Linked DNA regions of Homo sapiens: region 1 is linked to region 2. Evidence: fine-mapped expression QTL. A gene starts in region 2. The other region holds a variant in brackets. All regions are shown on one strand. Distances are from middle to middle. Region 1 overlaps TMPRSS7 (transmembrane serine protease 7). Region 2 holds the start of GCSAM (germinal center associated signaling and motility).

What was found. PIP is the estimated chance that this variant, and not a neighbour inherited with it, causes the effect.
Region 1: its variant is the best candidate, but not a certain one, in a credible set for the expression of GCSAM in whole blood (INTERVAL, PIP 0.80).

The regions. Positions count from the first base shown.
Region 1 is chr3:112,068,898-112,084,832 of GRCh38, reverse strand. It overlaps TMPRSS7 (transmembrane serine protease 7), which reads right to left. Exons shown (of 18, transcript NM_001395507.1): 14 at 10,421-10,537; 15 at 9,341-9,512; 16 at 7,689-7,957; 17 at 5,955-6,091; 18 at 3,564-3,919. The coding sequence ends at 3,749. Among named protein-coding and RNA genes, the nearest start is that of C3orf52, 9.5 kb to the left of the region's middle. The variant C/T (reference allele first, on the strand shown) is at 9,723.
Region 2 is chr3:112,129,202-112,143,647 of GRCh38, reverse strand. GCSAM (germinal center associated signaling and motility) reads left to right here and starts at 10,400. Exons shown (of 6, transcript NM_152785.5): 1 at 10,400-10,556; 2 at 13,135-13,203. The coding sequence starts at 10,528. It overlaps TBILA (TGF-beta induced lncRNA), which reads right to left and starts at 10,225. Exons shown (of 1, transcript NR_157393.1): 1 at 8,289-10,225. It overlaps SLC9C1 (solute carrier family 9 member C1), which reads left to right. Exons shown (of 29, transcript NM_183061.3): 29 at 2,367-2,750. The coding sequence ends at 2,376. It also overlaps a transcript of C3orf52 not described here. RefSeq lists enhancers at 6,042-6,560, 6,561-7,080, 10,075-10,254, 10,735-10,794.

The sequences.
Region 1 (15,935 bases), 60 kb after region 2:
CTCCCCACCCCCATCCTTACCCAGGGTCCAGAAAACTTTTCTCATAGTTCCCTTATTTGATTGCAGAAGTTCATCCTAAATGTGAGATTTTTTTCTCACTTCAGATGGATAGTAGCTATCTCCATGCCTGATTTCTCCATGCACAGATACCTAAAGCCTCCCTCACTCCCCCAGAGAATCAAAAAGCAACTGTTCCTGTCTCAAGCACACCCTAAACCACATCTTCTAATGCCTTTTGAGTACTGTTAAGCAAGGTTTATATACTCTGTAATTAGATTTAAATGCATTTCTATAATTCCATATGCCTAACCCTTGTTCTCATGTTACAGTGGAAGGAATATAAGTTCTGAAGGCAGACAGAACTAGGATCAAATTTAGACTCTCACTATCTGTGTGTTCTTGGGCAAGCTGTTCAATGTCTGCTTGTTTTCTTATAAAATGATTCCTACCTAGCAGAGTCAGGAAGATTAAGGTAAAGAATTTATTCCTGTGCCTGAAAAATGAAAGGATCTCAGTAAATGCTCCATTACATTCCCTGACTGTGTCTTTGTGGCTAATACCCACTCTCCCCCGACCCTTAGCACCCAGCACTAACCCTTGATTCAATATGTTTTCTTTTGATATTGGTTTTTCTTCCTGTGCTGTCCTATTTTCCTGATCACTGACACTTGCTGACACCTCCCATATTACCTGAACTAAATTCTTATTTGCAACCTGTTCCTGTTCCTGTTAACTGCAAATTTCTTAATCTCCAGACAGCTGACCTAGAATGCAGATGAGAGTCCCAACCCTACCTGAAGACTTTCTTCATCCTGCCAGTTTCACTCCACACTAAGGATTCAGAATAAGTTAGGAAGAGGTGTTTCTCCCTAGAGGTACAACCAAGTTTAGATTAAACGAGTCTGATGAAAGTCAAGAATTTGTGAATGAGGAACCAAACTCTACCTAGATTTGTTTTTGTAATTCCTTCAGAATTCATTTACATAAGGGTGGCTTTTTAAATATACTATTATTTCAAAAATAGATTTCTTTAATATAATTTAAAATTATTATTGACTCAATTGCTTTAGTTTGTTTGAAGTGTCTAATTTAAGTAACATTAAAAAATTAAAACATACTTATATTTGCTGACCAATATAAGATTTTTGATGTTGCTTTTTTTTAATAGTACTTGCTCTTCTTTTTAAATCCTTTTTAGAAGCAAATAATTTTCTAAATGGTTATCATATAAACTGAAAAACAAAGTAACATCATCAGAGTGATATCACCAATACACCAAAGGCATCTCATTCCCTTCAAATAGGTCTGTGACTCTGGAATACGCAACAGTTTGTTCCTGTGTGTTGTCAGATGGCAAGCAATACTACTCCGAACGTCAGCAACTGGGTCAGCCACTCAAGCTAATCAAGTAGAAAACAATTGAGAAATGGTTGCTTGTGGTGCTTCACTGTGCTATTTTCAAGGCACTGTGAAAGAAGGCATGAGTCCCTACAAGTTCTCCCTGATAATATGGCACGTGAAATGCTTCTGTCTTAATTTATGAAGGCCATTTTGCTCTGCTAACAAAACCATTCTTGGGACTTGCCTTACTTCACACCTTTGCAAGAATGAAGTGGATATTCCCACATCATTCAGGTTCTAAATGCATCTTAACATGCAATATCCAAGCAAGTTATGTTTGTTTTTCAACCTTTTCCCTGCCCCAGCACTGCTACAGCATATCGTGTACTCACTTTAATACCAGTGAGGGCCTATAGAGGTAGTACATACATGTGCTTTCAAAAACTCCCTCTGATGAATCTGATGGATCATGCCAGCCCTCCTCCATCCCCTAACCGAGATCACAGACTTATGCAAAGGTTTTCATGTATTTTGTGAAGAGCAATTCTATGCCCTAGAAATGACCATAAAGTAAAAAGTACAACTCACCTTGTATATAGGTCACAGCCATCCAGACAAAATAATGTAGATTATAAGAACTATCAGCCTAATTCGCTCTTCTATCCAGTGGATTCAGTAGCAAAGTCCTCCCTTTTGAATTAGTGGTACACTTGGCCCTCTGAATTGCACTATCGTATAGCCAGTTTACTGAAACCTTTGGGGCCCATTCATAGAGGTATTATTAAGATGCTTTATCCTTAATCTGAGGGAACAGTCTTTTAACAAATCAAAGTATATTCTATGAACTGAAAAATTTATCTGGCCTGGGAGATGACACCTTTTGCTCTCTCTCCTTTTGCTGTTACATTAAGATTTTCTAAGGTTCTGTGCATTATTCTATTAATAGACACTACCTGATGTTAGTATTTTTATTACTTCTTTGACTTTATAACAGGAAAACAAATAATATCACTCTTTTTTCTGTTGTTTTCACTCATTTGGTGGTACTATCAATTCTGGCTTCTGTTAATGAAAAGAATATTCTGAGATCAAGTATGAAACCTTCTAAATCAAGATAAAATAAATCAAGAACTAAGATACATTGAGAGTGTGCTATAGGCTTACAACTATGTAAGGTATTATAAGAGTCTGAAAGTAAAAGAAAGTCTCATCCACTGGGGTTTTAAAAAGAACCAAAAGCCAGATGATAATATTTCTGAAAAATTTCACTTTTGCAACAATCATTCAAAAATTTCTTTGCCTTTTTTTTGCTGACCAGCATTACAACAATTTCTTTGAATCTCATATACATGCTTTCGATTCAATTACCATGATGCTTTATTCTGCCATTTAGTAATGGTTGCTGTCAGTTTTGTTGGTTGGTTGATTGGTTTCTCTGTACACAACATTACCATGTGCCATGGCTGAAGATGGTCCACTATGATATGTTTAGATAAAATTGGTTTGTAAAGCAACAATATAGGTACTTATTCTGTCGATAACTGAGTTTTGCTTCATTTGCATTTGCAAAGGAGATATTTTGTGCATTTAGTTTCTTGAAAATGCTGAAGGTCAGGTATGTTTTTTACTGGAATTTCTTATTTTAATAAGTCAAATTTGCTGTAATTTTTATAAGTATCTGAACATGAATAGGGACATAAAATAGGGATGCCTGAACATCTCCCTTATTTTTTTATTTTATTTTAGAGGCTTGGTTCATAACATTACTTTAGGTTTCTTCCATCTCTGAATCAATAGCCTTTTGTACTTAAGAATGAATATAGTTATTTCCTTGGGAAAACTTTTTATGGAACACATATTAACCTGTCTTTCAATAAGTATTAAATGTATGTAATTTGACACTTCCAGTTGAAAAAAAGTAAGGGACTAATTTTATTATTAAATGTATGCAATTTGACATTTCTAGTTAAAAAAATGTAAGGGACTCATTTTATTAGTAATTATTGCATCATTTTATTTATTTATTTATTTATTTATTTATTTATTTATTTATTGAGATGGAGTCTCACTCTGTCACCCAGGCTGGAGTGCAGTGGCTGATCTCGCCTCACTGCAAGCTCCGCCTCCCGGGTTCATGCCATTCTCCTGCCTCAGCCTCCCGAGTAGCTGGGACTACAGGCACCTGCCACCACGCCCGGCTAATTTTTTTTTTTTTTTTTTTTCAGTAGAGACAGGGTTTCACCATGTTAGCCAGGATGGTCTTGACCTCCTGACCTCGTGATCTGCCCGCCTCGGCCTCCCAACGTGCTGGGATTACAGGTGTGAGCCAGCGCACCCAGCCAATTACTGCATCATTTTAAAGTATCTATTTTTAACATAAATCACAGTAAAAATACAACTGGTACAATTACAAAAGAGAAGGGACATATTTATGAATCCAGGGAACAAAGTTTGACACCCTTGTGTAAACACCAGGAAAGTTTGGTCGTCCACTTCCATGTCCCCAGCTAACAATGCCAGTCAAAATCCATTTTCCATCACTTTTTCTTCGACAAGATAAAGGTCCACCCGAATCTCCCTACACACACAAAAAATGTAAGTATAAAGTAAATTGGTCCCATGATCATCAGTTTCATCTTTATTGTATCTAATGAATTGTGTTCAAGAGTCCTCTAATGACATGTTTTTGCTTGGCTAATCACTCTGTAATTTGGGAAGTGTGAAAAACTAATGTGAAACTTCTATCATTTTATAATTATTCTTCCTATAATCAAACAGCTGCATTCATTAGACGAAACATGATTCTTTAGGCTAAGAATAACACTGGAAGATTCTTACTGGAGAAAACAACTCTCACATAGCCCTAAACAAAGAATAAACCTCAGTAATACTAGTGGTGATGGTGGTGGTGGTGGTGGTAATAGTAGTAGTAGTAGTAGTGGTGGTAGTAGTAGTAGTAGTAGTGAGGGCTAAAATTTATTTAGTGCTAGCTATGTGCTAAGAATCGTTTAGAGACATTTAATCCTCACAACAACCTTATGAGGCATGGTTATCTTGGAAGGTTGACTTCTATCTCTGGGCCATGCAACTTTAGTGGTTAGCTCATAGCCCCATGGAGAAGAAGAGACCTGTTTAGTTAGCCAGGTCCAGTGAAAAAACCCTAACAACTGCTGGTCCACAGTCATCACAAACAAATCACTCTCACTTGAGAGTCCTTTCTGATATCTCAATTCCTCTAAGCAAAGGCTTAAACAATTCAAAGTATAAACATAATTTCCACAGTATTAGTCCTTTAAATTATAATATCTAGGTTTTATTTTCCTATTTTAGAGGGTAGATAATCTTGCAACTTACTCAGAGGCAACAAATTTGCCCATGTATCCAAATTATGATCTTATACCTGATTAGGAAAATTCCAACTAGTAGGGAAGCTGGGCTCTTTATTTTAATTGCCACCACATCAACTCTACTAAGTTTAACAAGTAAACACTTGTGGCTGTGTGGAACAGGGCTGTGTAACCGACTAGCTATGGGAAGCACCCAAAATAGAGTACCCTTAGCATTAGAGAGGCAAGGGTTCAAATCCCAGCTCAGACATTTACACTTACTAGCTGTATGACCTTAGGCAATTTACTTACCCTCTCTGTGCCCAGTTTCCTCTTCTATAAAATGAGGAAAAAAGAATGATTGGAATGAATTTATGTAAAGAACCTAGCACGGTGCTTGCCACAAAATAGGAGCTCAGAAGACAGAAGTCATTATTATAGGATGAGTTTTTGTGGCATCATGGCTAAGCTTGTGGAAAGATGAAAGAACAGCTCCCACTGTCCTACTCACCCTCTAAATCAGGAGTATGCAATCTTTTGGCTTCCCTGAGCCACACTGGAAGAAGAATTGTCTCAGGCCACACATAAAATGTACGAACACTAATGATAACTAATGAGCTAAAAAAAATTGCAAAAAAAAATCTCATGATGTTTTCAGAAAGTTTGTGAATTTGTGTTGGGCTGCATTCAAAGCTGTCCTGGGCTGCATGTGGCCTGTGGGCCGTGGGTTGGACAAGTTTGCTCTAAATCATCTATTTACTCTTTGGCAATCATGTAGGTAACTGCATAGATTGGAATCTCAGGCTCCGAGAAATGTCACCCCAAAGGTGACTTCCAACTTTACCACTGCCAGGGGCCTACCCAGAGAACTACAAATGAGTATTCTTTGTCACCTCTCCATTCCTCTCCTCTTTCCACCAGCATATACTTCAAAGGAATGAGTAAATAAAATCCTTCAAATTTTAGAAATTAAATGGCAGCTGCTAAGGAAATAGGAAATAAATTGGTTATAAGAAAATTATGGCAGAATGATGAATGCTGACCTCATCCTCTAAATATTGAAGGAAAATACATGGAGCACATTATAGAAAACTGCGTTCTATAGAATAAATTATTTCAACACCTCTCCAAGATCTTAGGCAATTGGATGATAAATAATATCTGAGCAGCTCAAGTGAATTCAGGGAAATACCTGCCCTGGTTATTTCCCAGTGTTATGTAGATTAAGTGAGAAAGCATTTATGGAAAGCACAACATGTTAGGCAAGGGAAAGGTACAATGACTTACTTTGCAGGCATCTCTCTTGCCTGACATTATGCCTGCACAGAGCATCCGAGAAGTGATGATCCCGTAGGTGGAAACACAGAGCGTTTGATCAATGAGCTCTACCTCCGCTTGCTGCAGAACGAGGGAGCCTTTATTATCTGCAAAACACATTGGAAGTAGAAATGATGTTAGTGGTAATGGCCGCATGTATTCAGGACTTCATTTGAAAAGTTAACACACATTATCTCCTTTTACCCTCATAGCGGCAATTCCCTTGAGGTAAATTCTACTATTATCCTCATTTTGCTGATGAAGAAATCGAGTGCTAGGAGATTAAAGGGCTTGCCCAGTGACACACCACTAGCAAGTAACACAAGATTCAGACCCAAGGTCTGACTCAATTACTTGAACAACTGTGCCATATTCCTCACCATTTCCCTCCTGTTTTCCGTAGGATGGTAAGTCAGCAACAGTTATTACTAATATCTACTATTCAAGAGAGCTCTTTAAATGGAGCAGCATAACTGATATATGGGAGTCTCTGATGAACCATAAAAACCTAACAGTTTGCAAATAGCTGTTTCACTTCCTTTTGAACCTACCTGGCTAAGATGATTCAGAAAAATAAGTGTACACACACATACCCAGGCTTATAAAGAAAACATCTCATGATAAGTTGGTTGGGCAGATGCTTTTCTCCTGTGATATATGATAATGTAATCAAAGCACTGAGCACAGTAACCTATCAAAGTTACAAGTGTTCACAGTCAGCTGCCTTCCCTCCTTGGGACCCTGAGACTTCAGTGGACCCAAGCTGGTGGTATTACTACTTCAATCACTAAATGAAAGCACTGAGAAGCTGCCTTTGAGAAGTTGCCCACACTTTAGAGTGTCAAAACGAGGCTACAGGGCAAGGTTCAGGAATTACAGATGCTGTACGTGTCCTAAACCCTTGAAAAGGATGGCAAAAGAAGGTGAGGTGATTGAAAGATCAAGGGAAAATATTAGCACTAGCGTTTGGGGATACATTCACAAAGCATTGGATTCTTCCCCTCACTATATATTCAGAATCCCACCTTGAATCCTGGACCATGAAAAACCTTGGCAGGGTAGATGTAGGGACTTCCCTACTATACAGCCTGATCTTTATGCATATTGAAAAGATGTCCTCTCCCGTCAGAGAAATAGCAAAAAGGTATCTCCTCTGGGTGGACCAAATCCAAATCCTGGAGGTATAACCTCCAGGCCTGAGTTTCTGGTCTGGAAACTAAGGGCAGTCTGAAGTTCAGCCCTTACTCTCATCCCTTGGCCAATTGCACAGGCACAGGTCATACCCACATAGTCTCCCAGACTGTTGCCTATGAGTTGACATAGTGGGATGTGCATGTGTGTCCTTCTCTCCTTTATAAATGAATCATTTCTTTGAATGAAAAGGGAGGAATTGCTCCTTCTCTAGTGAATAACATAGCATAACCTTCAGAGTTTGAAAAGGGCCCATGACTATCTAGTCAATCCTGCCTTGCTCATACACAGTCCTCTCCCTCTTTATAAGGTGAGCCCTGCTTCTTTTAAAGCAGGTGGATAGCATCATTAAAAAGAAATAACAGTACCCTCCTCCAATCCAACCTTCCAGAGTTGTCAGGAGGTTCAAAGGAGATCATATACACAAACCCTCTCTGTGAACCCTAAAGCACTACATAAACACCTTATCATCCTCTGCAGGGGAAGGGCATGACCATTCATTCATACACACACCTGCTTCGTGTCTTCGCCCCCAGCCAGTTACCCAGCACTTCTCCCCACTGCGAACTCTCTGACCAGTGGGAGGAATGCATATTGGCTGAATGAGCTGTTTCAGGGTCTCAGGCCAGGCAATACTGAGCTGTAGCAAAGCAATATCATAATCAAAAGTCTGACTGTTATAGTACTCGTGGACCACAATTCTTCTCACCGGGGAGACAAACTTGGCATTCCCCTGAACATACATCCCGAGGTGTGCAGTCCATGGTGTGGGATCTGACAGCCTGATAGAACAGTAATGAAACATAAAGTTAGCAGCTTAAAGAACCACATACAGTTTGCAAACAAGCACTCTAAAGAGTTGAGGGCTGAAAAAGAAGGGCCTGACTTCCAGGGTGTTATTATAGTCACTGGCTTTGTCCGGGGACCATGGCAGAAAGCGTAACTGTGAGCCTCCCTTGTCTCCCTCAAAAAGTCAGAAATGACGTAAGCTGTATTAGGAGTGGCAAGTAATAGAAAATTCACTCAACAGTGTCCTAAGCAAATGCCTGGACATTTTCTTTCCACTAGTATTTCATGAACCACACACAGGTCAAGAATGTTGGTAACTAGAATTAATTTGTTACATTCTTCCTATTCATGCTGACAATGGCATTTGATGGAGAATCCTACTACCAAATTCAAATGATATGAATACCAAGATAGATTAGAAATCAAAGTGCTATAAGCAGGAATTTAATGAAATTCCTTCTGGCAAACTACTGGAAGCCTTAATGATCACTACTCTTACTGCTCAACAATGCCCATTCATAGGGTCACCAACTGCCATTCCCATCAGTCCTTCCAGAATCCCAATCTTGACCTCCATGACCTTGCACAAGTCACAGAAGAACTTGTAATCTCCATGTGAAGCGTCCATCTCCATCAGCATAGCAGTGGGGTAAAGAGTGGGAGTGAAAAAAATGAGGAAGCCCCAAAATTTTGGTCACTAATTTGCTTAGCTGATGTCTCATGAGTGTCAATGGACACCCAAAGAAATATTAGGGTTAATACATTATTTGGAGCAGTTTCACAGCATTAGAGACTCATGATCAAACAGATGTGAAGCTATCTTAATAATTAACACAAATCCTATAATTTTCAGGGAAACAAATATCCAAACTGTGTAACTTCATTGAAATACTAAAAAAAAAATGCAGAATGAGAAGTGAATGATTTTTTTAACCTAAGATTCAGTAGATTCCAATAGTAAGTTTAAATTTTAAGTGAGGTTATTTTCTAAGATGTCCTCTTACCCTTGGCTGGAAGAGCATCTATCCCATCATAATCCCATTGGGGACCTCCATTCTCCAGTCACTCTCCAGTGCCCATTTTTCTCCACATTCTCCACACATTCTCTTAAGTTTGCTCCCTCTGAGTTAAAAGCCCTATCTTATTTTCCCAGCCTTAGTAAAAGCCTATTCATTCTTGATGTTTCCTTTGTGCTTTTTTTATACCAATAATACCTTAAAAAAAAATGTTTGTCACACACGTGGGATCCAAAAAATGAAAGTGCAATTGAATTGATTGAATGTCCCCAACAGGGATCTGCTTCCCACAATTTGAGGGCAGATATATTGTCTATGGCCACAGAGTGCCACTTGAAAGTAAGGACCGTGAGGCCCTACCTGTTTCCATGAAAACAGTGGGCTGCAGAAAGAAGCCACTCCCTGGAGATGACTGAGGCACCACAGTAGGCAGATCCAACAAAGTGGAGGCTGACCTGCCACGGCCAACCCCCCTCCAGGGTGTCTGTGCCTCCGATGATGCGGTGAAGGGCGGAGGAACTCCTGCTGCAGGCTTTGGTGGAGAAAGGGCATGTGATTTAAAGGTAGACTTGGAAGAAAAACTAGAAGTTAAGCCAGTTTTAGTGCTGGCTGGGAACTGACTCACTAGGTAGCAATTTGAAATCTCCTTATCTAGAGGACAGAGAACATGTGAGTCTGTCTGAAACCAATACAAACAAACCACTCCCTCCTTCCTGAAGCATGCCCTGACACAGTCTCTATA[C/T]CACAACGCAGATGAGAGGAGGAGGGGGACCTGCTGTAACAGCTGAACTGACACAAACAGCTGCCTATGGATTTAGATTGTCAGGTAAAGAGGAATGTAAATGAATTGAGAATTTCTTTGAAGTTGTGCTGATGTGACAGAAAGGATTGGGGAAAAGATTTATAAGACCTGGACAAATGAAAACCTACAGGGAAAACTAGTTATCAGAGCAATTGTTTGCTAGTGTAAATAGTATTGGTAAAGATGTATAATTTACATGTTGCCACATGGCCAAGTAGTAGCCACATGACTAATAGGAGCATGTGGGAGATTAGTTATTGAGTCAGGCCTAAAGAAACAGCACTTGATATTGTTAGTAACATAAGGCATTAACAGGTCATCCACTGCGTTCCAGTTTCTATTTATTTTCTCACAAGGTTTTTATTTAAGATCTTCTCCCTTGATTAAAATTATTAAAAAGTGAAAGTTCTCATTTTAAAAATTTAATTCATTAATGCTGTTATCAAGAAGACAGAATCCATTCCAGAGTTTTTATTTCTGAGAAACAATTTCAGACTCAGTTTGTCAATAGTTACTATTCTTGTTTTGGCTATGGCAACCTCGATCAAGGGAAATACACCAAGAAGGGAATGAAAATATAACAAACAGGTAAACTGAAGAGGGAATACAGGAACCCAAAGGAATGAATTTCTACTTACTGCAGCCTTCTTCATCACTTCCATCTGGACAATCCACTGTCCCATCACATTTTGCATTTTGTTTCCTAAAGCAAATATCATTGCCACACTTAAAAGTTCTGTTGTTGCATGGAATACCTAACAATGGACAAAAGAAGAAACAGCTTTCCTTAGCCAGAAACAAACTTGAGTGAATGAGATTTGAATGAATAACTCCAAACCCCATAAAAAATGGTTTAATCACAGGATTGGTATTTGCTGCTCTGGGATAAATGGCAGAGAGAAGAGAAGCAACCTCACAGTGATCCATTTCTTCACCTAAGAAAAGCCATTTGAACGCTGGCAGGCATATTTGTTGAGAATCAATCCAACCACCTCTTCTTTCTCCCATAGCAGGTGAGACATGAAGAAGTGCGACATATCAGTGGCTTTAGGCTGCAGCCTCTTTGCTATTACCTTCTCTTATTCTCCAAGAAAACTTTTGAGCAAAAATCACAGCCATGCTCAGTTATTTTATATCAGTAGGAGGCAAAATGGACAGACTTGTGAATTACAACACATTTGTTCACAACCTTGGAGGTTTGTTTCTTCAAGGGTGAGAGTGGAACGTGTTCCATTCCAGTATTTGGCAAGTTCCTCTACATCAGGTCCTCTGTATCCTACAATCCTGAGCATCATTAAAAGCAAGTAAGCAATAAGAAACTGCCAGTATTACAAAAGAAACTACCATCAGAGTGAACAGGCAACCTACAGAATGGGAGAAAATTTTTGCAATCTACACATCTGACAAAGGGCTAATCTCCAGAATCTACAAAGAACTCAAACAAATTTACAAGAAAAAAACAGACAACCCCATCAAAAAGTGGGCAAAGGATATGAACAGACACTTCTCAAAAGAAGACATTTATGCAGCCAACAGACACATGAAAAAATGCTCATCATCACTGGTCATCAGAGAAATGCAAATCAAAACCACAATGAGATACCGTCTCACCGCAGTTAGAATGGTGATCATTAAAAAGTCTAGAAAAGGCCAGGCGCGTAATTACAGGTGGCTCCTGCCTGTAATCCCAGCACTTTGGGAGGCTGAGGCGGGTGGATTGCCTGAGGTCAGGAGTTCGAGATCAGTGTGGCCAACATGGTGAAACCCCATCTCTACTAAAAATACAAAAAAAATAGCTGGGCATGGTGGTGTGCACCAGTAATCCCAGCTACTCGGGAGGCTGAGGCAGGGGAATTGCTTGAACCCGGGAGGTGGAAGTTGCAGTGAGCCCAGACTGTGCCACTGCACTCCAGCCTGGGCAACAGAGCAAGATTCTGTCTCAAAAAAAAAAAAAAAAAAAAGTCAGGAAACAACAGATGCTGGAGAGGACATGGAGAAATAGGGACACTTTTACACTGTTGGCGGGAGTGTAAATTAGTTCAACCATTGTGCAAGATGGTATGGTGATTCCTCAGGGATCTAGAACTAGAAATACCATTTGACCCAGCAATCCCATTACTGGGTATATACCCAAAGGATTATAAATCTTGCTACTATAAAGACACATGCACACGTATGTCTATTGCAGCACTATTCACAATAGCAAAGATTTGGAACCAACCCAAATGTCCATAAATGATAGACTGGATTAAGCAAATGTGGCACATATGCCTGGCTTGGCAGGTCCCACGTCCACAGAGCCTTGTTCACTGCTAGCGCAGCAGTCTGAGATCCAACTGCCAGGCGGCAGCCTGGCTGAGGGAGGGGCGTCCGCCATTGCTGAGGCTTGAGTAGGTAAACAAAGCAGCCAGGAAGCTCAAACTGGGTGGAGCCCACTGCAGCTCAGCAAGGCCTACTGCCCCTATAGACTCCACCTCTGTGGGCAGGGCATAGCTGAACCAAAGGCAGCAGACAACTTCTGAAGACTTAAACGTTCCACTCTGACAGCTCTAAAGAGAGCAGTGCTTCTCCTGGCATGGCATTTGAGCTCTAAGAACAGACAGACTGCCTCCTCAAGTGGGTCCCTGACCCCTGTGTAGCCTAACTGGGAGACACCTCCCAGTAGGGGCCAAGAGACACCTCATATAGGCGGGTGCCCCTCTGGGACGAAGCTTCCAGAGGAAGGATCAGGCAGCAATATTTGCTGCTCTGCAATATTTGCTGTTCTGCAGCCTCCACTGGTGATACCCAGGAAAACAGCATCTGGAGTAGACCTCTAGCAAACTCCAACAGACCTGCAGCTGAGGGACCTGACTGTTAGAAGCAAAACTAACAAACAGAAAGGAACAGCATCAACATCAACAAAAGGGACATCTACACCAAAACCCCATCTGTAAGTCACCAACATCAAAGACCGAAGGTAGATAAAACCACAAAGATGGGGAGAAACCAGAGCAGAAAAGCTGAAAATTCTAAAAACCAGAGCGCCTCTTCTCCTTCAAAGGAATGCAGCTCCTCACCAGCAACGGAACAAAGCTGGAGGAGAATTACTTTGACAAGTTGACAGAAGTAGGCTTCAGAAGGTAGGTAATAACAAACTTCGCTGAGCTAAAGGAGATGTTCAAACCCATCACAAGGAAGCTAAAAACCTTGAAAAAAGATTAGACAAATGGCTAACTAGAATAAACAGTGTAGAAAAGACCTTAAATGACCTGATGGAGCTGAAAACTATGGCACGAGAACTACGTGACACATGCACAAGCTTCAGTAGCTGATTCCATCAAGTGGAAGAAAGGGTATCAGTGACTGAAGATCAAATTAATGAAATGAAGTGAGAAAAGAAGTTTAGAGAAGAAAGAGTAAAAAGAAATGAACAAGGTCTCCAAGAAATATGCGACTATGTGAAAGGACCAAATCTACATTTGATTGGTGTACCTGAAAGTGATGGGGAGAATGGAACCAAGTTGGAAAACACTCTGCAGGATATTATCCATGAGAACTTCCCCAACCTTACATGGCAGGCCAACATTCAAATTCAGGAAATACAGAGAACACCACAAAGATACTCCTTGAAAAGAGCAACCCCAAGACACATAATTGTCAGATTTGCCAAGGTTGAAATGAAGGAAAAAATGTTAAGGGCAGCCAAAGACAAAGGTCAGGTTACCCACAAAGGGAAGCCCATCAAACTAACAGCGGATCTCTCGGCAGAAACCCTACAAGCCAGAAAAGAATGGGGGCCAATATTCAACATTCTTAAAGAAAAGAATTTTCAACCCAGAATTTCATATCCAGCCAAACTAAGCTTCATAAGTGAAGGAGAAATAAAATCCTTTACAGACAAGCAAATGCTGAGAGATTTTGTCACCACTAGGCCTGCCTTACAAGAGCTCCTGAAGGAAGCACTAAACATGGAAAGGGACAACTGGTACCAGCCACTGCAAAAACATGTCAAATTGTAAAGGTCATCGATGCTATGAAGAAATTGCATCAACTAACGGGCAAAATGACCAGCTAACATCATAATGACAGGATAAAATTCACACATAACAATATTAACCTTAAATGTAAATGGGCTAAATGCCCCAGTTAAAAGACACAGACTGGCAAACTGGATAAAGAATGACAAGTTAACAGGTGCAGCACACCAACATGGCACATGTATACATATGTAACAAACCTGCACGTTGTGCACACGCACCCTAGAACTTAAAGTATAATAATAATAATAATAAAAGAGTCAAGACCCATCAGTGTGCTGTATTCAGGAGACCCATCTCATGTACAGAGACAGACATAGGCTCAAAATAAAGGGTTGGAGGAAGATCTACCAAGCAAATGAAAAGCAAAAAAAAGCAGAGGTTGCAATCCTAGTTTCTAATAAAACAGACATTAAACCAACAAAGATCAAAAGAGACAAAGAGGGCCATTACATAATGGTAAAGGGATCAATTAAACAAGAAGAGCTAACTATCCTAAATATATATGCACCCAATACAGGAGCACCCAGATTCATAAAGCAAGTCTTTAGAGACCTACAAAGAGACTTAGACTCCCACACAATAATAATGGGAGACTTTAACACCCACTGTCAATATTAGACAGATCAACAAGACAGAAGGTTAACAAAGATATCCAGGACTTGAACTCAGCTCTGCACCAAGTGGACCTAATAGACATCTACAGAACTCTCTACCCCAAATCAACAGAATATACATTCTTATCAGCACCACATCACACTTATCTAAAATTGACCACATAATTGGAAGTAAAGCACTCCTCAACAAATGTAAAAGAACAGAAATCACAACAAACTGTCTCTCATAGACCACAGTGCAATCAAATTAAATCTCAGGATTAAAAAACTCATTCAAAACTGCACAACTTCATGGAAACTGCATAACCTGCTCCTGAATGACTAGTGGGTAAATAACGAAATGAAGGCAGAAATAAAGATGTTCTTTGAAACTAATGAGAACAAAGATGCAATGTACCAGAATCTCTGGGACACATTTAAAGCGGTGTGTAGAGGGAAATTTGTTGCACTAAACACCCACAAGAGAAAGCAGGAAAGATCTAAAATCAACACCATAACATCACAATTAAAAGAACTAGGGAAGCAAGAGCAAACAAATTCAAAAGCTAGCAGAAGGCAAGAAATAACTAAGATCAGAGCAGAACTGAAAGAGATAGAGACACAAAAAACCCTTCAAAAAAAAATCAATGAATCTGAGAGCTGGTTTTTTGAAATGATCAACAAAATTGATAGACCGCTAGCAAGATTAATAAAGAAGAAAAGAGAGAAGAATCAAATAGACTCAATAAAAAATGATAAAGGGGATATCACCACCAATCCCACAGAAATACAAACTGCATCAGAGAATACTATAAACACCTCTATGCAAATAAACTAGAAAATCTAGAAGAAATGGATAAATTCCTGGACACATATACCCTCCCAAGACTAAACCAGGAAGAAGTTGAATCTCTGAATAGACCAATAACAGGCTCTGAAATTGAGGCAATACTTAATAGCCTACCAACCAAAAAAATTCCAGGACCAGACAGATTCACAGCCAAATTCTATCAGAGGCACAAAGAGGAGCTGGTAACATTCCTTCTGAAACTATTCCAATCAATAGAAAAAGAGGGAATCCTCCCTAACTTATTTTATGAGGCCAGCATCATCCTGATACCAAAGCCTGGCAGAGACACAACAAAAAAAGAGAATTTTAGACCAATACCCCAGATGAACATTGATGCAAAAATCCTCAATAAAACACACTGGCAAACCAAATCCAGCAGCACATCAAAAAGCTTATCCACCATGATCAAGTGGGCTTCATCTTTGGGACACAAGGCTGGTTCAACATACACAAATCACTAAACATAATCCATCATGTAAACAGAACCAATGACAAAAACCACGTGATTATCTCAACAGATGCAGAAAAGGCCTTTGACAAAATTCAACAGCCCTTCATGCTAAAAACTATCAATGAACTAGGTATTGATGGAATGTATTTCAAAATAATAAGAGCTATTTATGACAAACCCACAGCCAATATCATACTGAATGGGCAAAAATTGGAAGCATTCCCTTTGAAAACTGGC
Region 2 (14,446 bases):
CATCCAACAAAGGCCTAATTTCCAGAATCCATAAAGAACTTAAACAATTGAACAAGCAAAAAACAACCCCATTAAAAATGCATGAAAGACATAGACAGACACTTCTCAAATGAAGACGTACAAGCAGCCAGCAAACATGAAAAAGTGCTCATCATGACTAATCATTAGAGAAATGCAAATCAAAACCACAATGAGATACTACCTCACACCATTCAGAATGACTCTTACTAAAAAGACAAAAACAACAGATATGATGAAGCTGCAGAGAAAAGGAAACATGTATACACTGTTGGTGGGAATGTAAACTAGTTCAGCCACTATGAACAGTAGTTTGGAGATTTCTCAAAGAACTTAAAACAGAACTACCATTTGATGCAGCAATGGCATTACTGGAGATATATATATATATATACACAAATTATTCTACCAAAAAGACACATGCACTTGCATGTTCATCGTAGCACCACTTACAATAAATAGCAAAGACATGGAATCAACCTAGGTGCTCATCAGTGGTGGGTTGAATAAAGAAAATGTGGTACATATATGCCATGAAATACTATACAGCCATAAAAAAGACCCAAATCCTGTCCTTTGCAGCAATATGGATGCAGCTGAAACCCATTATCCTAAGCAAATTAACACAAGAAAAGAAAACCAAATATTGCATGTTCTCACCTGTAAGTGGGAACTAAACATTGGGTACTCATGGATATAAAGATGGCAACATTAGACCCTGGGGATTTCTACAGAGGGCAGGGAGGGAGGGGTCAAGGGTTGAAAAACTAACTACTGGGTACTATGCTCAGTACCTGGGTGATGGAATCATTTGAATCCTAAGCCCAGCATCACGCAATATACCCAGGTAACAAACTTGCACATGTATCCCTGGAATCTAAAATAAAAATTGGAAAGAAAAGGATTTTTTTTTATTATTGCCCAAAGAATACTTTCATATATTATCAGAAGATATTCTCTTTTTTGTATATTGAATTTAAGTCAGAATGATTTAGGTAATGTTTAATGCATTGATCTCTTTTACCTCAAAAAAGTAATACTGTCATAGAAAGCAGAAGGAAATACAAGGAGGTGCTGGAGATTGATAATCTTCTTGGCAGGAGGACACCCAAGTCAGCAGTTTCTTATATAATCCTATAATAATAAAAGCAGTTCAAGAATGGTCCAAAAAAAGAATTAATTGCTTACAATAAGATCAATATCTTTACTTTGGACTAATGTGTACAACATGATTAGGAAAACACTGTAATTTCAACAGGCAAACTTATGAATAAGCAATTCAAGTAAAAGACAATACCTAACAATGGAGAAAATAGTAATCTAAGAAATGCAGAATTTAAAAAAAATTATTAACATTTGCTTTTTTAATTGACAACTTTTTTATTCATTGGTAACATCTATTTCCTTTGAAACAGAAGAGGAAATAGATGAAAACTGAGGGATATTGGTTTTCTCATATTTTGCTGGTAGAAGAGTAAAAACAACTTGTAACAAAGTTATAAGAATGCTCACACACTTTGAATTAGTGATTATGCTTCTAGGGATTAATCCAAAGTAAATTATTCTTACAGTAAATGTGTACAAAACGTCCAAGGCACTACTACTTCTAATGACGAAAGAGCCCAAGTGTCTAACAACGAGATTGTCTACAGAACATCCATATGAGGAAATATTGTGCAACCATTAAAAGGGTTGGTTGTATAGATCAATGTAAAATATGAAGAGGAAGGCAAAATATGCAACATACAATATATATACATCTTTCAACATGAAAAGGGTCTAGAAAAGATCAATACAAGTTATTTAATTATGGAATTAGAAGGATGAGAATAGGAGTGGTTTTGATCACTTCTCTTATTTTATGCAGTTCTATTGATTTTATAATAAAAAGCATGATTATGAAACTATTAAACATTATTGAAATATAAATTATGTGAAAGTTATTTATTTCTTCTTAACACCCTTTACGTTCAGCAATACTGGTTTGATGAAGGGGGTTTTTATAGTCAGAACTGAAGCTCAATGAGTGGTAATGGATTAAGTCAATGCTTCTCACAATGGACAATCCTCCTCCTGACAATCCATAAACTATGCCTGTTCATTTTAGCACGCTTCAGTGGCTTCTCAGACTCTGACTCCTAGGTTAAATCATTCTGCCACCACTCTATGAGTGACAAGGGATTCACACTCACTTGCTCAATTTCCTTCCTTGGCCTTAACAAAAATGACCAAGTGTGTCTTATGGGAGTCAAATTGACCCTCTAGTACATCCTATTCTGGGTTGTAAGTCAATATTGAAAGATTCAAAAGCCCTCTATGTTTTTGTTTTTTCTTTCCGCTTCTATTAGGAAAGAGTAAGACTGTTAAGAAGACCGAAGCATGTATTAATGCTGTGGCTATGAGAGGCCTCCTGCTGCAGAAACACACTTCCCTACATCAAGAAGGAGTAACTTCAGGTTGGATCCTGTGTGGATGATCTTGGTGCTAAGCAGAAAAGAAATTTGGACCTTGAAACCAGCAGTTCAACATATATACTTTTTGCAAAATTTCCTTGATTTAAAATATTTGTTATTTTAAATATACAAAACATTTTAGAAAATCTTAGAGTAAATTTTAGTCTTAAAGCCAGAAAATAAGTTTATAGCCATCTAGATATTTTGCATATTGCTCTTACAGCAATAATGGTTTGGTTCACTTTATGAAAAATAAAATGTATTAAAATATAGTTTAAATGCTGTTCTTGATCCAAGTATTGATTTTTGTCACTCATTGTACTTCACTCATCTCGGTAGCTCTCAGAGAATTATAATAGTGAGGAATGAAAACTGATTCAGACTGAATCAGGCAACTTAGCCCTGAGTGAAACTTTCAGTAATCACTTTATTCACCATTATACTCACAGCAACAAGCACAATGCCTAGTATGTAATTTTAGATAATAGTCTTAACAGTGAAGAATTAGTGCATGCTTTCTGTATGTTAGGCATACAACACATGCCATACAGTTATGATGAACTCATTTTGTAACAATCATATAAGGTAAGTACAATTATTCCCAATTTATGAATGAGTAAACTGAAAATCTTACAACTAGGAAGAGGCAGAGCAGAGATTTGAAAACAAGTTATAACACATATCCCCCTAATATGGTAAGCCCTAAATAGATATCTGAAGAATTAATAAAAATTTAGCTTGCAGTGAGCTGAGATAGCACCACTGCAGTCTGGCCCGGGTGAAAGAGCAAGACTCCATCTCCAAAAAAAAAAAAATATATATTTAAAGATAAGTCTTCAGAGTCAGACTTCCACCTGGGGGTCTAGAAATCTGAATGCTATGCCAAATAACTGGTGGTGGGCACATTTTAGAAGCCAAGTATGGCAACTCCTGTCACAAAAGTGTCCTTGTGGAAAAGACAACTTGGTTTGTTTCTGTTGACAAAGTCAAATCAAACTGCTACCACTTCTCTCCAAAACTAACCTTAACCAGTTTTTTCCCAGTGATAATTACCTGACAGCTGTTAAGTGTTTAAGGAACCCCATTAATGAGTACCCCTCCTCTCCTGAGTTCTGAACCAACTGAAAATTATGATAAAGGGTTAAAGCAGATAGAGATTAAAACATTCACAAGCTCACCATTATTACTGATGGAGCTGACATTAGATAAGGTGGTTGCCTTCTTTTCCCTAGAACTGAAAAGATTGACTGCTGTAGGCATTTGTCATTAAGCTTAATGCATAGCTGAGAACAGTAGAAAATGCAAGATTTCTAAGAGTAAATTTACTCCAAAAAGTATCAAGAAGAAGGGGATTAACACAGAATGTCCAGGCTCTACTTCCAAATACATCAACCAAATAAACCACCGCACTTCAGTAGAACAAATGAGAAAATGAAGATGGGCAGCAATATAAAGGCAATGGAGATTTCAGCCCTTGATCTAGAGCAAGGACCTAGAGAGGGAAGAAGTGTTCTCCACCAACAGTAGCTGTTACTTACAGAGAGCCTAATGTTACTTACAGAGAGCCTAATGTGTCTTCTGATACGCTATTCTGAGTGCTTTTCCCTCATTAGCTTATGCAGTCATCATATGAATTTTGGGAGGTACTTACCATCATTAGTCCCATTTTGCCAAGGAAGTAATGGGGCTTAGAGCACACAAATAAATTGCTCAAAGTCACACAGCTAGGCATGATGACATGGATTTAAATCCTCCAAGCACAATCAGTGTAATGCTTTTTAAGTTATTTAGATTTTATCATGGAAATTTAAGCCATTGAAGAAGTATTGCATACACTCCATTATATTAGTTATTGTCAATGTCATGGACTAGGTTTGTGTACTGGATTGTAAACATCTCCCTGTGGGAAAAGGCCACTACACAAGACACTGGAATATAAAATCCTGGTACCATGCATGATGTATATAACCAGCCTCATCTTCAGGGCATGGTGGGTTGTGTGCCTAGGGCTCTGTTTTTACCTGAAAGAATGTAATGTACAGACTTTGGCTGAGGAAGGTTCTTAGAGCTCACTTTCATTTGGCTCTTCAGAGGAAAGCTGTTTATTTGCTTACAATGCCCAGAATATTGTCTGCTTTTAAAATTTTTATATAAAAGGCTTTCCTTGGTCTGTTGACCCTTGAATATTTTTGTAATTTAGCTTTATTCTTTAACTTTTATAATGCTTAAACCTGGTTTGTACTTTTTCTGCAGATATTTGACTTATCTTCCATGTTCTATATTAGTTTTACTAATGAAAAACAGGAAACTTTGCAAATGAAGAAACATTCTTCCCAAGGGTCATTTATTCTCAGAGAAGTGCTGTCCCACCCTCCTGGTGGTTACAGCTAGGAGAGCATTCCCAGTGAACTGAAAAAGTTCCCATTCTGTTTCTAGGCAATCATCTCTGGATTACCATGGCTCCTGCAAAGCCAATGGAGCTATGTGCTGAAATCTCTTCACCACAAAGCAAAAGTCTAACCCCAACGTTCACCTAGAGAGTTACTGAAACTCTGTTATCTCCTCTTTAAAACAAAATATTTTTTATATGGAATAGCAGCAATTAATAGTTACAGTTTTCAAACACACAACTATCTGACATTAGCTAGGACCACTAATCAGCTCATATTCTGTATCACAAAGTATATAGGTAGAAAGTTCTATTCAGGAAGATTCCTCAGTACTCTCTCACCATGCAGCCTTTGCCCTCTTTTAAAGGGAAGCAGAATAGGGAAGTCTTAACTAAGCTATTTGACTCCTGGTTCTGTAAGAAATCTTAAATAAACCACTTCTTTTCCCAAAATAAAATGCCCCAAAATAATTTTCTTTCTGTATAATTAGTTCTCCTAATTCCCTTCCCTCATTTCACCATTGCCAGAAAGTGACTGGGCTTGGGCTAGGGCTAGGGCTAGAATTATCCCATCTAGGCCTTTGAAACTGCAGGAGTATCTAGAATCACTCTTATCACTCACTCTTACCCTAAAGGTCTCTAACGTGCCTTGTGCTGAGGCCAGCCCAGATTGTGAAAACTGCGTAAGAACTGGGAAGCCTTGACACACTACATGCAAATATACTGCTCCTTATTGACACATTGGAGTGATGTAGACCAGGTTTCAAAGTCAAGCTAAGACGTCTTTCTATGAGTACTTATTAAATAGGACAACAAATAGATATATCCACACCCCGTTTGAACTTATATCTTAGCTCTGTCACTTCCTATTGGGATATCCTTGAGCAAGTCACTTGAGCCTGGTGTTCTCATCTACAACAAAGAGGAAATGGTATTTATTCCACAGAATTCTTACATGAAGAAATTAGAAATTGTATCTAAAGCATTTAACAGAATTACTGGATTATTAGAAAGCTCTCAACAAATACTTATTGTAATTATACTTTTCTATGATCTTCAAAGGATATAGCAAAACAGTCATTGGTCATTAATTCTTTACAGCAATGCCAAAGGATAGGAAAGTAAATTTAAAGATCTCAACCCAAACGTTCTCTGATTTCCCTATCATCTGCTTACAAATATCCAGGCTTTTATTTCCAATTCAACACATACGGTTTCTTACATGTGTTAGAAATGTAGTTTCTTACACGTGTTAGGCACTGGAGTTAAACACTGAGAAGAATAAAGAGTGAATCTATGATTCAAAGATTTGTTATCTGGGCTTCTTTGTGTGGGGGTGTGTTGCTCTACTCATTTACGGAGAGGAGATATATTATTTATAGTCCAGAGTCAGTTTTACAGCAGTAAATCTATTATAAATATCCTGCTCTTTCATGCTACTTTACACAAGTGATTGATAGCTAACACTTCCACAGCTCAGCTTCTCCATCTAGCGGCCTGAGTAAAACAGAAGCTTGAAAGCAATTCCTAACCTTCCCCTAAATTACAATGGGCAGATTGATTTCCAACTCACCCTACCATGGCTCTCTGGACTCAAAGACTCTTTTAGACAATAGTGGAACTAATTAAGCCACACATGGAGCAGCATCCAGGCTGTGTCTGCTCAGGCTGCCCCAACTAGGGTCTAGGATCTGTTCATTCATACTGGTGGGAAGTCAACAATAGCCCTACTCACTGGCTAAGCACCCTGTCCATGTGGTCTCTCTTTCACAATGCTAAGACATTCTGGTCCCCTGCTGCTAGCCTCTAGGTAGTGCAAAATGTGCTGAGGCCACTGAGGAAGGGGCACTTTTAGGTTAGATTGATTGTTTTTCTTTTTTTCTGAAGGTAATAGGGAAGAGAGAGGTTAGTTATAATAGTATACCAAGATTCCTTCCGACTCCCACACATACATACCTCTTTTTCTCGTACACAAAATGGCAGACCACTGGTTGTCATCCCAGATTTTCCATACACAAGGAAGAAGCATTCAATAATTTGGAACACATACTCTATTTTTTATTGTAATTATCCAGCCTGGGAAAGGAAATGGTTTTGAAAGAGGAGAATAGGAGAAACAGACAAGGGTACCCCCAGGTTTCTTAGATCTATATGCTGTGGAAACCTGATTTTCAATATAAGCTTTGTTAAGAATATTCTTTTTTACTTCAATGCTTCATTTAATTTATTGATGGGAGGGTTTTCCTGAATTTCAAATATTTACAGAATAAGAAAATTTACCACCCTAACATCTTTCCTAGAGTCAATTACATGAGGGATTCATGAAAAAAATTAATGGAGCTACTATTGGGGAAATAGAATTAAAAGCAAAATCTCCTGCTATTTCAGAAAACCTCACCACAAAAATAGAAGAGAAAGAAAACACTTTTATTTCTGAATATTCAACCAGAATGTAATGCACACCACAGGCAATCCCCTAAAGAGATTACTAAAACAGAAAGAAATCTTCCCCTTTTATATGCCAAGAAGATATCCTCCACTGCACACATTTTCTCAAGACAAACAATGACTAGTATTCACATAAGAGGACTTGACAGCACCATTTGTCACATAGCGTTTATCTGAAATTATTTTTGTAATATATTTGCTAATTGCCCTTAAAAACTAATTTCTCATTTCTTTTTGGTTGGAGGTAGATTTGCAATTTGGAGTCAGGTGTCAACTGAAGTTAGACTCCAGAAAATTGTATTCTGGAATACTTGAGCATGGAGACTGCACATGGACATTAGGGTGTGTGCTCTGAGATAAACGAAAGCTACAGTGAGAGAACATAACCAATCCCAAAGATAATTTCAAAGAACAATGACAGCAAAGGTTAGGTGGGAGTAGTATTTGACAATGCTTATTTGATATTGTCTCTCAGAGCTGCAAACTAGATTATACAAGTCATTAGCGTCAGATAGCTTTAAAGTTGTGACCTTCCTTTACATGAATTTTCTAGCCAGTTTCCTATCCTTTGCAAGAGGTAACAAAACATGAAACCCTAGAATGTGTGAGTTCAGGCATTAGGTATATAATAAGGAGGCTCTCTGTCCAGGGCTGCTTTCTGTCTTGCAGGGGCTAGTGAGTCTTGTGTGTTTTTATTTTATTCTCACATTTGTGTTTTTTTAGAAAAGTGAATGATCAATAATGGCTTATCTTTTATAATAAAATCTTCCATTTTTAATAAGGTGCTCCTGGAAATCCCTCACAGAGCCAAAAGGAAGTTTGGAGAGCAGCCATAAGGATAAGAATGATGTGAGATGAATCTGGGGTTGCACAGCTAGTACCCTAGTTTCTCTGAAATTGTTTCTTCTAAGCCCACTCCCCATCCTTCTCCTGCCTGTTTTAGATATGACCTTTACATTACTCAAGGACAAGCAATAAAATATTTTGCACTTTGTTTTATTTCTTTCAAGGAACTTCACAAGAGCAGTCCTGTATCTGCTTTTCTTACCATTGAACCTACAGTGCCCAGCACATAGTAGGCACTCGACACATACTTGTTAAAGGAATGAACAAACAGATGAGTGACCAAACTGGAAACAACCATCAAATACAAGGATAATACAAAAATCCATGATTCCTGTCCCGAGATTTCTTTCTTTTTTAACCTTTTGTCTGTTGAGATTCATTTATGTGCAGTGAAGTGCACCCTTATTAGTATACAGTTCTGTGAATTATGAGAAATGCATACAGTCATGTGGGCACTAACACAATCAAGATAAAGAACAACAACAAAAAATTTCCTCCTGTGCTTTGAAAGTCAACACCTCCCCCACCTTTTGCTCCTGGCAACACTAATATGTTTTCTGTTCCTGTGGTTTCACCTTATCTCTAATGTCACAGAAGGTAGGCTTTAAGTCTGGTCTCTTTCACTTAGTGTAATGCATTTGAGATTGATCCAAGTTATTGCATGTATTAATAGTCCACTCCTTTTCAATGATGGTCAGGATTCTGTTGTGTGGATGTAATATAACACAGAGCTTATTTAGCAATTCACTCAATGAAGATCAGTTGGGCTATTTCCAGGGTATTTCGGCTATTATGAGTAAAGCACATATAAAAATTTGTACACACAGTCTTAGAGGACATAAGTTTCACTTGGCTAAATGCCTAGGAGTGAAATTGCCAGGTTGTACAGTAACCCTATGTTCAATTTTATAAGAAATTGCCATACTTCTGAGATGGGAGAGTTCCCTTGACCCCTTCTCGGGACTTGCGACAGGGGTGTGGCCTACTTACTTGGCCACCACCATGCTCAAACTCTCTGTGGGAGCGGGAGCACGCAGGCAAGCGGGTGCCAGGGCTTCGATGAGCACTTTTGGGCTCCAGCCCAACAGCAGCATTTAGGGATGTGTTACAATTCATGCTCTTTTAGCAGTTGCCATCCGTGGACAGCTAAGTGTTAACCCACTCAATGGAGAGTCAGGGTGGCAGCCTTTTACACCCTGCCCTGTTGGTACCCAGGTTCTTGTTCAGCATCCAGGAAGAATCAGGTTGCATGAATGGTTTGAAAGTTGATGGATGTGGACGATTTTATTAAATGGTGGAAGTGGCTCTCAGTGGAAGGGGAGCTGCAAAGGGGATGGTGCAGGAAGAAAGTGACCTTTCCCTGAAGTCTGCTGTCTCTGGCCGGGCTCCTCCCTGAAGTCATGCCACCTGAAGTTAAGCCACATCTCTGACACTCAGTTGCTTCTTCTCCTCTTGATGTTCAGCCGCTTGTCTGTCTGCCAGCTGAGGTCTGGGGTTTATATGGGCACGGGATAGGGGGGCTGGACAGGCTAAAGAGTAACATTTGGGCAGGATAACAGGGATAACTGTTCTCATTTAGGGCTTCGGTTTCAAGGCTTGAGGGTGGGACCTTTGCCAGTGAACCACCCTCTTCTACCCAGTAAAGCCCTGCCTTCTGTCCTTATCACTTCTTTCCAAAAAGGCTGTCATTTTGCATTCTCATCAGCAATGCATGAGACTTCCAGTTGCTTTGCATACCTTGCCATACTTGATATTGTCAGGGTTTTATAGCCATTGTAATAAGTATGTAAAAGTGTTCCATTGTGGATTTGATTTACACTTCCCTAATAACTACAATGTTTAGCATCTTTTAATGTTCATCTGTATAGTTCCTTTGGTGAAATGTCTGTTCAAATATTTTGCCCATTTTGTTACTGGGTGTTTGTTTTCAGATTTGAGAGTTGTTGATACTATATTTTCTACAGGTCTGTGGCTTGACTGTTTTAACCTCCTTCTGACTTTTCTAAGAAGACAACGTGATTTATAAACGTAAATATCTGTAGTGGAAAAACTCCCATGGCCCATCTGTAATTTCAGACCTGGGATTCCCCAGAGGTTCGAAGCTCTCATTGACGGGTAGTTGCTGGTTATGGCCAACAGCCAGGTTGGTTCAGGCACTGACATGTTAGGACATTCTGCACATGCGTGCCTCTAACACTCCTCCCCCAGCCTCTTCCTTCCCTCTGCAGAGACACCCTTCTCCTTTCTGCTGTCTCTGCACGGGTGGCCAGAGCCACACAGCCCTTTCTTTAAGTCAGGAGTTGCCCTGTCAGAGCACAAGGCAAGAAGGAAGTGGTAAAGGGACGGAGGGGAAGCCCTGAGAGGACTGAGAGGATGGGAAATTCTCTGCTGAGAGAAAACAGGTAAGTCTAGACTCCCTGTGGGAGAGCAGAGGAGATGGGACAGGACAATACAGCAAGGAAGAGAAAAAGAAAGCTAGTATACAGTTAGCACACTAAGTTGGGGTAGAAAGTAGTTGGGTAAGGAAACTGCCAAGCCTTCAGTGCCTACTCTGTGCCAGATACCACATTAAATTTCCCATAGGTTTTGCCTTCTCCCAAGAATCATGGTGAGCAGCTGATGGAGAATAGCTGAAAGGTGGAAAGACTTTACCAAGGAAGGTCTATATAATAGGTTACCACCTAAGAAATGAAACAACTTTCTGAAAGCCCGGGAAGGAGATGCTCTCCTGAGCTCCTCATGCTCCACAAGGAGGTCAAAATCACCACCCTCTTTCAGCCACTATTTTAAGTTTGAAATAAACAGCAAGCTTCCTGCCACCTTGAGTCTTCCTTTGATGTGCACTCCCTGCAAGCAGGTAAGCAGAGGTCATCTAGATTAAATAGGCACAGAACTCAGATTTACTTTCTGGACCTCAGCCTCTTTATTTTAAGTAGAAATAATAATACAATATCTACCTTAGAGAGTTCTAGTGTGTATTGTGCTAGCATAGTGCCTGACATAAAGTAGGGTTCAAAATTAGAAGATATTTTCTGCTTTCTTTTTCTGACCATCATCTTCCTTAATATCAAAGCCGTGCCACCAAAATAGTGCCACCACAGACAAGGTAATCTCTAGGGTATAAAGTGGGGTGATCTAGAGAGAGTAAGCGAGCCAGAGGGGGTCTTCACAGGGTTATGTTTGGAATCCCTGGTCTCAGTTCATGCTACTGGAGAGTGGAACACAGGAAAAAATGGTAGCCCACTTTTGACCACTTGCCGAAAAGAGGATTGGTGGTCCTGTGGAATATCTCATGTCCCTTCCTAAGAATCATGTTGTCTGAGACTTCTCTACCCTGGGTTGTCACAGCCCCTTGTCAATCTTCTACTCTAGCATTGTTCTAACAATTATATAAATTACTATTTTTATTACTAGATATGAGATGCTCAAATGTAGTGATTGTTTCTTATTTATCTTTGAATTCCTGGTTCCTGGCATTGTTTCTGGCATATCACGTGCACTGAATAAGTGCAAAAAAACTTTAAAAAAATTTTTTTACTTTAAAATTTTGTTTTATGTAAGAAAAAAAACCTTTTTCCAAGGTGCACACATCTTATGCTATTTGGACTTCTTATGGTTTTTTATTTATTTTAAAGAAAATTCGATTTTAAATCTAGAAAGCTTTTTGGTTTCTGCCATTGCATTCATGCTTAAAATTCTTTGCTCTTCCTAAGATAAGACAAATCAACTCACATAAGTTTTGATTTTGTTATTTTACATTTGGCAACATATATTCAATATATGGTGTCAGATGTAAATTTTTTTCCAAATAGTTGATCAGTTTGCCCAACATCTTTATTTCTATGATGATTTAAAAGGTCTCCCTTGAACCAAGTGCAGTGGCATGCACCTGTAGTCCCAGCTACTCAGGAGGCTGAGGCAGGAGGATTGCTTGAGCCCAGGAGTTTGAGGGCAGCCTGAACAACATAGCAAGACCCAGTCTTAAAAATAAATTCATTAAAATAATTAAATAAAATGTTTCCGTTAACGTATTCAAAAGTCTTGTATATATTGGTATCTAATTTTCATTGTCACCCCAACACCCAGTTATCATCTAGTCAGCATACCCCCCCAACCGTGTCTCTCCAGATCAAATAAGCTAAGAAGTCAGGGAAATTTTGCACAGAATAGAATGGCACTCATCCCTTCATGAGAGGAGCTCAGTCTCAGAGGAAGAGACCTGCCAGCAGCAAACCCAGCTTTTCCCCCTTAGTGGCTGTGGATCCTCAGACCAGTTGCCTAGCATTTTGGGCCTCAGTTTCCTCATTAGTATAAAAAATATAATGATAATATCTATCTTATGGATTTATTCTGGGATTAAATGAAATATAACACACAAAATGATTGGCATATAGTAAGTAGTGTTTAAGTGTTAGTTTCTTTATCCTCATACTCCCAATTCCCAACAAGTGGGAAGATGGGTATACAGAAATCTAACCCAAACAATGAACCAATTTATTTTCTTTATTCAATCCTTTTCTTCTCCTTCTGTCCCTTGTTCTGGGCCTCCATGCTTTCTGTGAAAGATGGTGTGATTTACACAAGACAAAGCCAGTACCTTTCCCCATTACTTGTGCATAGCTCCTGGAACTGCACCAAAGAGATGGTAGCTGAGGACCTCAGGCCTCTCTCTGGACACGGATACTCTCAAGGGTCATGACGAGGATCCCTGGATATTTGGGATCAGATGATTTAGGATCACTTGTTCATGGAGGTTGGAGAACATCAGTGGGCTGTTGCTGTGGCAATGGAGAGCATGTCAGATCAAAGGTAGCTTGCGACATGTGCTTGAGGAAACAGTATTAACATGTGTGAGGGCAACCAGTCAATTTCTGAGTTACACACAAATAGCAGAAATGAGGAAAGTCGGAAAAATTATGAAAAGAAGTGACAGGCCTGTTTAGGAAATACTTAGCCTGTTTCTGATATGTTGAGTTTCAGGCGGCAGCAGAACACTCAAGAGATGCCTTGGAATGTGAGAATGCAAAGCCCCAAACAGAGAACATCCAGGTGAGAGCAAAATCAACCAAACACCCCCCAGACCTTGCCCAAGGAGAACGAAGTATGTCAAGCCCTGGACTTCACATCCCAGTGAGAGAGGGCCCTGTTTAGACCAGTAGCAGTTGCAATAGTAACAAATGTGAAGACAGGACAAAAGATAAAATGCTTGAAAACTTTGGACAGGAGATATGCTACTTTGCTAGAAGCCTAATGTAACTCCTAGCAACAGGAACTAAGACCCTGCTAGTCCCTGTTATGCCCTGTTATAAAATAAAAGGTCTTATTTCCTGTTGTCATTTTGTTTGTCTATCTCAGGTACCTTTGTGCTCAACCTCCACCCTAGCCATTTTATTTTAAGCTATAGGTGTCTATTTCTGAAGTGACCACATGCCCCATGTTACGACAATTTTTAGAAAGTTTGTGGAGACACCATTGTGATTGCCCTGATGTTGTTAAACAAAGACCACCTCATTAATTCTTTTTGAACAGACCTTTCAAATGTCCAGCCCTAAAGAATTCTCTCTAAGGAAAGGAATAATTAAAATATGGAACTAATGTTCCAGGATCCAAGAATCCTAAGGGCTGACAAGGTCAGTTTTTCTGTGGCCTGTAAAGTTATCTGTGCTTTTCACATGGTTTCAGGAGGAGATTTTGAAAGAGGAGCAATTAAAAAACAAGCACTGTTGTTATTTTCTAACACCAATGCCCGCGTTAGGGGCTGGAGACCCAGAGATTCCTTTCAACAGGGTGAATTTTTTCAGTTCAAGTTGAGAATTACATATTTTCAGGGGTATCATTGGGCATATTTTAAGGCATACAGTTCAAATGATGAAATAAATCAGAAGGGCCACGGCATTATAACAAGGGAGAGGTTGGGTAGACCAGAGAGCCAGAGAAGGCATTGTGAAAGAGACAGATACCTCAAATTCCTGACACGTAGCCTAAGGGTATAGAGATTTGTCTAGCTTGCTTCTTGGAGGCTATCTGAACCCATCCCAAACCAAAACCACCATGTTGAAATGCAAGAATAAACTGCAGAAAAGTCAAGTAGGAGAAACAGCCAGCTTACAGATCGTTTTTGCCCATATTTAACCTCAGCTTATTCTTATAACTCCATGTGTAAGCAGTATATACATCCTCTTTTATAGATTTAAAAACTGTGGCCTCAGGAGTTCAGAGAATATCTCTCAAAATCATCCCCCTCCTCTTATCTCATTCATTTCTCCTCAGTGAATCTGGTTTGTTAACTTGG